Linked DNA regions of Homo sapiens. The protein of the gene in region 1 purifies or fractionates together with the protein of each later gene. This does not show direct contact. Each region holds a gene or a part of one and is shown in the gene's direction. Other genes may lie near its edges.

Evidence for each region.
Region 2: the proteins of CPVL (region 1) and UBP1 purify together in Homo sapiens (affinity purification with mass spectrometry, with the first as the bait; one study listed by BioGRID). This does not show direct contact.
Region 3: the proteins of CPVL (region 1) and ABHD12 purify together in Homo sapiens (affinity purification with mass spectrometry; 2 studies listed by BioGRID and IntAct, with this or other methods). This does not show direct contact.

What each region holds. Positions count from the first base shown.
Region 1 is NC_000007.14:29,139,980-29,143,629, reverse strand, and holds part of CPVL (probable serine carboxypeptidase CPVL isoform b precursor), read left to right. Parts: intron 1-3,650. UniProt on the Homo sapiens protein: May be involved in the digestion of phagocytosed particles in the lysosome, participation in an inflammatory protease cascade, and trimming of peptides for antigen presentation.
Region 2 is NC_000003.12:33,391,784-33,395,433, reverse strand, and holds part of UBP1 (upstream-binding protein 1), read left to right. Parts: intron 1-1,979; coding exon 1,980-2,122; intron 2,123-2,819; coding exon 2,820-2,871; intron 2,872-3,650. UniProt on the Homo sapiens protein: Functions as a transcriptional activator in a promoter context-dependent manner. Modulates the placental expression of CYP11A1. Involved in regulation of the alpha-globin gene in erythroid cells.
Region 3 is NC_000020.11:25,307,294-25,310,943, reverse strand, and holds part of ABHD12 (lysophosphatidylserine lipase ABHD12), read left to right. Parts: intron 1-1,368; coding exon 1,369-1,498; intron 1,499-2,449; coding exon 2,450-2,487; intron 2,488-2,898; coding exon 2,899-2,978; intron 2,979-3,650.

The sequences.
Region 1 (3,650 bases):
AAAGGTAAGCTCTTCCTCCTTTCCTTTTTGGGACTCTGTATCCCATTACCCCTCTTTCAAAAAGATAGTGCCACATATCTTTTTGTACTGTATGATTCTTGGGAGAGAATGTAACCCAGGTCCCAAGCGATTCATTTTCTCATTTATTTATTCATTTAACTAATTTTTTCCCAGTGTTTGATTATGAAAAGGTTTAAACTTTCAGAAAAGTCAAAAGAATTTTGCAATCTAGAATCTACCTAGATTCTATTATTGATTAGAAGCCAGGGTATTGATTTCAATTGATTAATCAACTGGCATTGATTAGTTCCTACTGTTTGCCTGGAGGTTTGCTCAGCAAAGCTGTAAAAACATAAAAGGCAGGGTAGGGTTAGGGAACAAGGAGAGTTTTGATTTGGCGGAGCATAGGCTAAGAGTTTGTGAAGGAATCATGTAACTTTGGTTTGAAAAGTTATGTTGAAGTTGTATCATGGAGGACATTAAATTTCATCGTAGAAAGTTTATACTTTTTCCTGGTTGCAGGTGGGAGCCATTGAAGGCATGGGAGGAATGGAGTGCCTTGTGTTTTAGAAAGCTCACTGAAGCATCAGTGTTAGGCTAAATTGGAGGGAAAAGGACCGGAAGTCTGAGAGATGTGTTAGGAAGCTTTGTAAATGTCTCGGGGCAAGTAAGGGTTGAACTGTGGATAGAATGGAGAAAAAAGGAAGTAGAATAGCACTTGGTGACAGATTTGACTTGAGGACTTCTGGTTTTAGAACTCAGGCATCTGCAATTATAAGGGAGCATCATTAAGAATCTGGAAGTCGCTGGGCATGGTGGCTCATGCTTGTAATCCCAGCACTTTGGGAGGCTGAGGCGGGCAGATCACCTGAGGTCAGGAGTTTGAGACCAGCCTGGCCAACATGGTGAAACCCTGTGTCTACTAAAAATACAAAAATTAACCAGGCGTGGTGGTGCATGCCTGTAATCCCAACTACTCAGGAGGCTGAGGCGGGAGAATCGCTGCAACCCGGCAGCAGAGGCTCCAGTGAACCGAGATTGCACCACTACACTCCAGCCTGGGCAACAGAGCAAGACTGTGTCTCAAAAAAAAAAAAAAAAGTATCTGGAAGTCATAGAAGGAGGAAGTTTGAGGAGAATGATGACGTCCTGTTATAGAGTCAGTGGGTTTGAGGGGCTGATTGGTTATCCTTTTGGAGGTGACAGCTGACAGTGGTGATACTGTCCTGAAATGCCCAATAGCAATGTCAGGACTGAACAAACATTTGGACTAGTGATTAATACTCAAGGGGTGGTTGAATGGGAATGTACGGAAAGAGAAAAAAGGATAAGATCTTGAAGAAAATCTGAATATATGGAGTCCTTGGAGCAAAAAATAAATACAGGTGTTCAATGATCTGTTAGTATTTTAATGCCTGTTTATCTACAGTGTTACTATAGCTGCAGTTCTCATTAATAATTGACCACAGTTCCTAACTAAAAGACCATATCTGCACTAGTAAAGTGAAGTAAGTCTTTCCTTTTCCCATTCTGGGAAGTTCAGGGGGTAAGGTGAGGCAGAGGAAAGAAGAAGAGAAAGTTAAATAAATTTTTTTATCTAGGACTTTTAGAGCATACAACGCTTTTTCCAGGTAACCCACTTGCAGATCAGAAGCCAGGTAATTTAATGAACTTGTCTATCTTTTCACAAGGCAACAGCTACTTTTTTTTTTTTTGAGATGGTGTCTCACTCTGTTGCCTAGGCTGGAGTGCGGTGGCACAATCTCAGCTCACTGCAACCTCTGCCTCCTGGGTTCAAGTGATTCTCCTGCCTCAGCCTCCTGAGTAGCTGGGACTACAGGCGTGTACCCCCACGCCTGGCTAATTTTTATATGTTTAGTAGAGACAGGGTTTTACCACGTTGGCCAGGATGGTCTCCATCTCCTGACCTCATGATCCGCCTGCCTTAGCTTCCCAAAGTGCTGGGATTACAGGCGTGAGCCACAACGCCCGGCCAAGGTACAGAGTTTTTAAGTGGCAGAAGCCACATTTGAAGCTGTGAAGGCATACTTTGTTTTTTTATTTTTTATTTTTATTTTTTGAAATGGAGTTTCACCCTGTCGCCCAGGCTGGAGTGCAGTGGGGCGATCTTGGCTCACTGCAACCTCCGCCTCCTGGGTAAAAGCGATTCTCTTGCCTCACCTTCCCAAGTAGCTGGGACTACAGGCATGTGCTACCATGCCCAGCTAAGTTTTGTATTTTTAGTAGAGACGGGGTTTCACTATGTTGGCCAGGCTGGTCTCCAACTCCTGACCTCATGATCCGCCCACCTCAGCCTCCCAAATTGTTGGGATTACAGGCATCAGCCACCGTGCCCGGTCTGAGGGCATACTTTAAATCTTTCATGCTATTCCCACCGGACTGCATTGCCTTCCTATATGCTACTGACTGTATGCTAGGTACTGTGTTAGGCGTTTGCACATGTAGGCTCCTTACTGTGGCCCCTCTGTTTTGAGAAGGTGATCAGCAGGGAAGCTCAAAGCACATTGCACAATTGGTTGTTGCACAATTGGCAGGATGTCTGCCCTCTGATTGTGCCTTGTTTTCACCCAACTTCTTGAACTCTACAGGAAGGGCCAGCCTCTCTCAGAAATGCCAGCCCCTAAAGCTGGTACAAAGGTCATGCAACCTTCCTACTTCCCTGAGTTCAACAATCACTTCATTCATTCTCCTTAAGATCATACCTAAAATCCTGGCTTATTTAAGGGTGAAGTGGAGAAAAGCTCTATTTTCACTTATGCATTTGTTTTACCCCATCAATCTTCTGCCTTCCCTCATTGTCCCACAGTTGTGCCTGTCTAAGGTCACTTTTTGCTTTTTTCTTATTTTCCTTCCCTGGGGAGTCTTTGGAGAGAGGGTGCGATAGAATGTGTAGCCTGGAGCAAGATTACCCCCAGTTGACTATGGAAGCCCTGAGAATTATGCTGCTTCCTCAATGCTTTTTTCCCAAAGTTAGAAGTAGCAAGTTGTATAGTGAGTAATAGGATTTGCATTGTGAATGGGGTCTTCCTCCAGTGAGGACTTTACTAAGTGCAGTGTTTATTTGTAGTGGGGCACAGAACTGCATTCCTCATGCTTTATGACAGTATTTAGGGTTTACTGGTTTTCATGCATGTCTCTCTTTGCTAGAATGAGGGCTCCTTGAAGGTGGATACTGTCCCCTTTTCATCTTTAACTACTCCACAAGTTTTAGCAAAGTGTCTCACCCTTTACTGTATGGTTAGAAAATCTCTGAAGAGTTGAGTTCTGTTAAAGGAGAGAAAACTATTTGTATAGAAGAGTGTGGGTAGAAGCCTGTTTGTTTGTTTGTTTGATGTGAGACAGGGTCTTGCCACATTGCGTAGGCTGGTCTTGAACTCCTAGGCTCAAATAATCCTCCTGCCTCGGCCTCCTAAAGTGCCGGGATTACAAGTGTGAGCCACTGTGTCCAGCCGAGGCCTGCATGTTTGAATGGATCAAGAAATGTGATTGTTTAGTGCTGAGGGAGGGTAGGTAGGTTGCAGGGAAAGGCCTGGCTAGGGAAAAGCTCATATGCTCCTAAGTCAAGCAACAAGAAATGTAGAACGTGAAATAAAGATGAAGCCATTCTGAGTCATGTGCAGACCGTGGGA
Region 2 (3,650 bases), on another chromosome or scaffold:
CATATATTTTCTCATTTATTGTATGGATATATGGTAACATTTCCTTCTTTCCATACTCTGAAGTAGAACAAAGGCAACATGCTCAGAACTTTAAAAAAAAAAAGATGTGTTAATGGCATTCAGAGATGCAGTTATTTGCCCTAAGAATAGGTAGAGCTCTGAAAAATGTCTTGTGGTTTGAATTTTACTGAAAAATTGGAAGGATAGCATCACTACTGTGAACTTTTCTATTTGGTATTATTTTGACTTCAAAAGCTCTGAATTTTGAGATTAAGTATACAAATTCTTAAAGGATAAAAATTTAAAGGAGATCTCCATGTATCATCAAGAGCTTATACATCACTTAGATATGGCCAAGATTATAATATTTTGGAAGGTGTATTCTCAAACATGAGTGTTTGTGGAGGGATATGGGGAAATATTGGATATTTTCCCATAATCAGCAAACTTTTTCTGTAAAAGGTCAGGTAGTAAATATTTCCATCTCTTTAGATCATACATAGGGTCTCTCACATTCAACTCTGTGATTGTAGTGCTAAAATAGCCATAGACAATATGTAAATTGTAGATAAGGCTGTTCCAGTAAAACTTTATTTAAAAAAAAAAAAAAAAAAAACAAGTGGAGGGCAGGAATTGGCCCATATGGGCTGTGGTTTGGTGACACCTGCTCTAGATCATTTCTATATTCTTACTGTAATTTTAGTTCCAGCTTCTTTTATGTAATGGAAAATTCTGGGTTTCTATACTCACAGACCCCTTGTTTGGGGAAGCAAAGTTCTCAGTAATGATATTCCTGATCCATGTCTGGCTTTAATCAGTAATTGAGCAGGACGTACAAGAGTGAGACTCACTACAGATGTGCACTGTGCAGATGTCTGCTGATAAGTTCTGTGTAGCAAAAATGCAGAACACTGGAATGTGGCTGGGGCTTTCTGTAAGGAAGCATCACACTTCATTGTTTATATTAGCTTTTCATATAGTATCTTTTATTTAAAATTTTTTGTGGGGGAGGGGCATATACAGATAGCTTTTATTCCTTAGGATAAATTCCTAGTAGTAGGATTACTGGATCAAAAACTATAATGCTTAACTGGGCGTGCTGGCTCACGCCTGTAATCCCAGCACTTTGGGAGGCCTAACTGGGCAGACTGCGTGAGCCCAGGAGTTTGAGACAGCTTGGGCAACATGGTGAAACCCTGTCTCTACAAATAATAATAATAATAATAATAATAATAATAATAAAAATTAGCCAGGCATGGTGGCGTGTGCCCCCACCATAGTCCCAGCTACTTAGGAGGCTGAGGTGGGAGGATTGCTTGAGCCTGGGAGGCAGAGGCTACAGTGAGCTGTGATTGTGTCACTGCACTCCAGCCTGGGCAACAAAAAAGGACACTGTCTTAAAAAAATAAACAAAAAGAACTATGACTCTTTTAGGGTTCTTTTTGTATATTGCTAGAAATACATGAAGTATATATTATTTTTAAAAACAGCTTTCTTCAGGCATAATTTACATACCATAAAGTCCTCCCATTGTAAGTATATAATGGTATTTTAGCCAATTTAGAGAGTTTGGCAGCCATTGTCAAAATTCAGTTTGAGTTCCATTATTTCAAGAAGATCCCCCATGTCCATTTGCAGCCAATTCCTGTTTTTAAATTTTGAATACATGAAACTATATTCATTGAATAAAAATATGAAGAAAAATTCAAACCTCAAATCTTTTTGTCCAGGGATTTCTGTTAATGTTTATTAAATTATATTTGTGGATATAAATAATGTATTCTTACGTTTTAGATTGGTAGTTCAAGATTTCAAGGTAGTAAGATGGGGGAAAGAAATAGTTTATTCCCATTTAAAATGTTTTTTTACTTTTTTGGTACTTTGAAAGGTGTGACCTTCGTACAGATCCTACAGATCAGGCAGAAAACAGATCAAAGATTACTGTTAAAATGCTTTTCTTTTTTTTTTTTTAATTTCAGTTTATCATGCAATCTACTTGGAAGAAATGATTGCCTCAGAAGTTGCTCGAAAACTTGCGCTGGTGTTTAATATCCCTCTCCACCAAATTAATCAGGTTTACAGACAGGGTCCCACCGGTATTCACATTCTTGTTAGTGATCAGGTAAATCAAATCATTTGTTTTTCCTTTTCAGACTGGTATTTACTTTTATACATGTAATTGTAGAACTGTAGAAAAATTCTGTGACCTCTTTTGAAAATACTTATGAGAATCATTTTCAGAGAGTTGGGAATCACTTTGGAAGAACTTATAACCAAGAGTTTCAGGCATCCTAGTGATAATATGGAATACAAGCCAAGGAAAACTGGCTTAGCCTCCCCCCAGCCCTTTAGGATGCAGCCAATCACTGGGGCACTCTAGGGATAGTGGCAGGCTTTGGCCCTTTTTATGAGGTGAGTCACTGGATGTGTTTTCCTTTTGTCTATTATTTGATGACTAATTTAAAAAAACATGTAAGATATATAATTTTTCCCCTAGTGATTGGTGGCAAGTAATAATAGAAGAGCACTTTATGCAATTTTTGTTCGAGTCATCATCCACTGGAGCCGGCAGGGAATGTGCCCCTGTGGGTCACATGGGTGACTGACCAGGTCTCTCAGGGACCATTATGGACAGGCATAGTGAACACAAGGCAGTGCAGCACGTGTGCATCTTTGCTGCCTCACACTGCCTTCATGAATTATCGTTTTGGCCATTGAGTCCTGTGTTTGTTTGAGAAGAATATTTACTGTTTTAAAATCATTTTAAGAAACGACAGTTGGATCTTAATTGTACTTACGCATTTACTTTATCCTTCCAGATGGTTCAGAATTTTCAAGATGAGAGTTGTTTTTTATTCTCCACAGTAAAAGGTACTTTGCATGTGTGTGTGTCTTAAAATGCTGGAATCATGAGAGATGGTGTGTGCCTCTAATTAGTGCCTCTCGTGTTTATTCTTTAAAATGATTGCTTTACTCATTTTAAGAAGAAAGTTTGATAAATGAGAATATTTCTAGTGGTTGTAACAGAAATTAGCATATAAGGAAGAGGAGTCAGTCTTTCTAGATGACTGGAAAAAAAAATCTCAATTCATTCAGCCAACGTCTTACTGAGCACTTTGTGTCAGACACCGTGCTTCTGTCGCTCAGTGGATCTATTGAATAAAACAGAATCCATGAAACTCCTATTGGGGAAAGCAAACCAAAATTGGCCAAGAGATACACAAAATTCCCAATATGTTAAGTTCCATGAAGGAACAGGAAAGTGTGGGGGTACTTATGGATAAGGGAGATCTGGGTTGAGGGGAATATGAAACTGTAAGGCAAGGCTTCTCTGAGGAGGTGTTATTAATCCTGAGACTTGAAGAATGAGAAGAAGCGGGAGCTGGCCATTGGATTAGCATCCCCAGGCAACGTGGGGCTGTGTGCAAAGAAAACACCTGGCTTCTTGGAAAGCCTGGCAGTGGGCCATGTAGGTGCCATGCAGTGTGTGAGGGTGAGCGGATCAGGGCAAATCAAAGCAGGAGGCCGGGTCTGGCATGCGGGGACCGGATGATGATGGTAGTTCGGATTTACTTGAAATGCATTGGGTTGTCACTGAAGTTGTTTAAACAAAGGAGTAGTAATGTGACTAGATTTTTCTTTCACTTTCA
Region 3 (3,650 bases), on another chromosome or scaffold:
TCCCATTCATCTCCCCGCACTTCTGTCAGGAAATGAAATCCCACGCAGCACTTTCTGTTTCAGTTCTCGTGGAGTCTACGTTTCTAATTGGCACCAAGACTGCCAGCTCCATCTCCGACTGTCCCTCTGTCTCTCTCACTGCATCTGCCTCTTTGTCCGCATCCTTCTGCCTCCTGTCCCTGTCTCTGTGCCTGTCTGTCTGTCCCTGTCAGTCTTCTTGCCTGTCTCTGTGCCTCTCTGTTCCTGTCTCTCAGTCTTCCTGTCTGTCTCTGTCTCCTGTCCCTGTCTCTGTTCTTTTCTTTCTGTCTCATGTCCCCATACCCCTGCCTCCCAGCCTGGCCCTAGCCCTCTGCATGGCCTCCTCCCTCCTCTAGTGTCTGAGTCGGGAAACAGCAAGTTCTGCACTAACTGTTTGCTTACACTGCACAACCTGCTCTTTCTGACCTTTGTGGTGCTTTCAGATCATCTGATGATGACTCACTGCTGGGCTGCTGGAAAGATAATTGCACTCCACCTTTGCTGGAGACTGGGGGAGGGACCCTTGGGAGGTTGTAATTTTGGGGGGCAGAGATGGTAGTGTTTTCTGTTATGGAAACAAGATGCTAATTAGACCCTAAGGGGAAACAGCCCCTTTCCCCTTCCTGGGTCATGGTTGCCTTGAACCCAGAAATGCCCTCCCTGTTCTGGGAGCCTCCGGACTCCACTCCCTGTCCTGCCCCTGACCAAGCCTTCGGCGTTGAGGAGGTTGGTGTCCAGCCAGCGGCCCCGGGGGCTGCTCATCTGACCACGCCATCTGCACTGCTGCTCGTCAGGGCTCGGAGTGGGACACATGGATGCTGCTGGGGGATGGGGGAGAAGTGTAGAGCTGAGGATGGTGGTGGCAGAGGCTTTCACTGCCTTAGACCTCACTAGCTTGCCTGTTAAGAAAGAGAGAGGGAGAAGTGAGCTCACTCCCCTGCCCAAGAGGGTGGGGCAAGTCCCAGCCCTGGCCTGAGGATGCCGGTGCCAGCTCTGAAGCTCTGTGATCTGTTCTGTTAACTCAGCTTGCTGTTAGTTGCCATTCAAATGTGCAGCTCACCAACTTAGAGTGACCCTGTGAGGGGATGTCTGGTTTGTGCAGTCAGCAGGGGCAGGGCAGGGTTGCTGCTGGGCTGCCTTCCCCAGGGCTGGTGGGGATGTGGGGTTGTGCCCGTTCTCCCCACTGCTTGCTCTGCCCAGTGGCCTGGGTGGGTCTGTGGACTCTGGAAGGGTGGGCCAAGCGGGCCCCTCCCTGTCTCCTCCTGGCCCTGGGCCCCCTTGGGGAGGTGTGTTTGTCCAGGTTTTGTGAGCTGCCTTTGACCTCCCCGTCCTGCCGTTTCTCCCTCCCAGGTTGGGGTGACTCAGTGGGAACGCCATCTGAGCGGGGCATGACCTATGACGCACTCCACGTTTTTGACTGGATCAAAGCAAGAAGTGGTGACAACCCCGTGTACATCTGGGGCCACTCTCTGGGCACTGGGTAAGGGACCCCAGCAGGAGGCAGCCTTTAGTGGGAGTCAGTATTCCTGGTGACTCCCATGCCTGGATCTAGAGAGTCCACCATCCCTGCAAACCCTGTGGCACCATTAGTCCCGACCAGCCTCGCTCCCATCCCCATGGCAGAGGCAGGAGGGGAAGTTACAAAGAGACTCCAAAGGATCTGAGCTCCTCGTCCAGGAAGTGGCTCAGGACAGACATAGGCAGTGGAGGTCGAGGGGTCTCCCTAGGGAGACTTGGCTCTGAGGAAGAAGCGTCTTCAGAGCTGAGGGAGGGCACAGTGGGTGGTTTGCTTCTCACAGAGGCCAGGACAGGAGGTACTTCCACACTCCCTTTGTGGGCAGCCTGAGTCATCTCTGCTGATGCGAGGTCCACGTCTCTGCGGGAACCTCTGCTCTCAGGGCCCCAGTCCCCAGACCTTCACTGCCATTCCCTTTCTGCTGCCTTTCCCTTCGGGGCAGCCCTTCTCCCAACACCTGAATGGCCTCTTGTAGGCTGGGAAGCATCAGGAGAGGAGTGGGTGGGGGGCACCAGCCATCCCTTTGGCCGTCTGCGTGGTCCACCAGGTGTGGTCCTGGGATGGCAAGAGGCCCTGGGTGTGGTGGGCTCCAGGAGAGGTGCAGGCAGACGCTGGCCACCCCCAGCCGACAGGCGGCCCGGCCAATGGGAGTGTACGGGCAGTGAGAGGCAGCAGGACACACCTCGGGGACAAGCTGACTGGCTGTGGGTACAGCCCTCATTGCAGGGGTCAGCTGATGGTGGGGCAGCCAGGTCACCCCCAGTGCTAGAGGGATCTCCATTTCCCCCACTCTGTCCTGAAACTCCAGTAGCTTCACAGACCCCATGGCTCCTCTGAGCACTTTCCAGCATAAGGCCCATATCATCTCAAACAATTTTATCATAACTCAACTAAGCTGTTTTTCTTTTTTCCTAGCGTGGCGACAAATCTGGTGCGGCGCCTCTGTGAGCGAGGTGAGTGCCTTGTTGGGCCCCAGCCGTGGCAGTGAGCATTCAGGGTGCTCCCCAGTCCCGGCCCTGCTGCAAGTGCTCAGCGTCCTCATGGAGCAGCATGAGCTGCACATTCTGGGGGGCCCGGGGCTGACCAGCCACCCTTCCCATGATACACCTGAGGAGCTGGGGAGCCTCACACACACAGGTCTGGCCCCAGAGCCGCATCAGCAAGTCTGCTTTTTAGGAGTGACCAGAGCCATCTCTGTTCCCCTGGCGGGCACCCCTGGTGCTATCTGAGGCCTGCCGAGGTGGTTGCCTGGTGGGAGGCGCTGTGGTCTCCTTGTGCTTTCTGGGGGCCCCTCAGAGCCCCACAGGCCACATGTATGTCGCTGGCTTCCTGCCTACCTCTCAGTTCCCTGTTTGTTTATCTAGAGACGCCTCCAGATGCCCTTATATTGGAATCTCCATTCACTAATATCCGCGAAGAAGCTAAGAGCCATCCATTTTCAGTGGCAAGTACAGATTTTATTAAAAATTAACTTTTCATTATTAAGATAAATTATAGAAATAACTAATTACAGGATACATTATAATAATTATTAAAAATTGTTATTTAAATATTCTAATGAATACAGATTTCATTAAAAATTAATACTAGTTTTGGCCACAGAGCTGCCCAAGAAGTATAACCTGCAGCCAGGTGAAATGACAGGTCATAATTGGGTCATTTGAGGGCAGCTGGACACAGTGGAGGCCGGGCTCACGTGGTGTCATCGACTGCATTGTATTGACAGCCCTGCCTTCCTGTTCAGGAGTGGAGCTGGGGGTGCCCCCCTCTCTGTGTATGAGACAGTGCTTGGGGGGCTGGACTGTGTGGACCAGGGAGTCTGGCCTTCCAGTTTTATCTTGGGGAAAGGCCCAGGTGAACCCCAGTGGGAATTCTGGGTAAGCCAGGCCCCACCCAACCTGTGCCCTCCCCAGCTGGGAATGGAACCTTGGACCTTCCCTTAAAACCTAGCCAGTTATTTTCCCCTCCTTCTCACTCTGGTTTGTGATCCCTGTGCTCCCCACTGGCCATGGATTCTCGGGCCTGTGTCAGCCCATGCTGGCCTCATGCTGTTCTGTTACCAACCAGAAGAGCCTTTTATCTTATCTTACTTTTTGGTGCTGCTTTTCTTAAATTG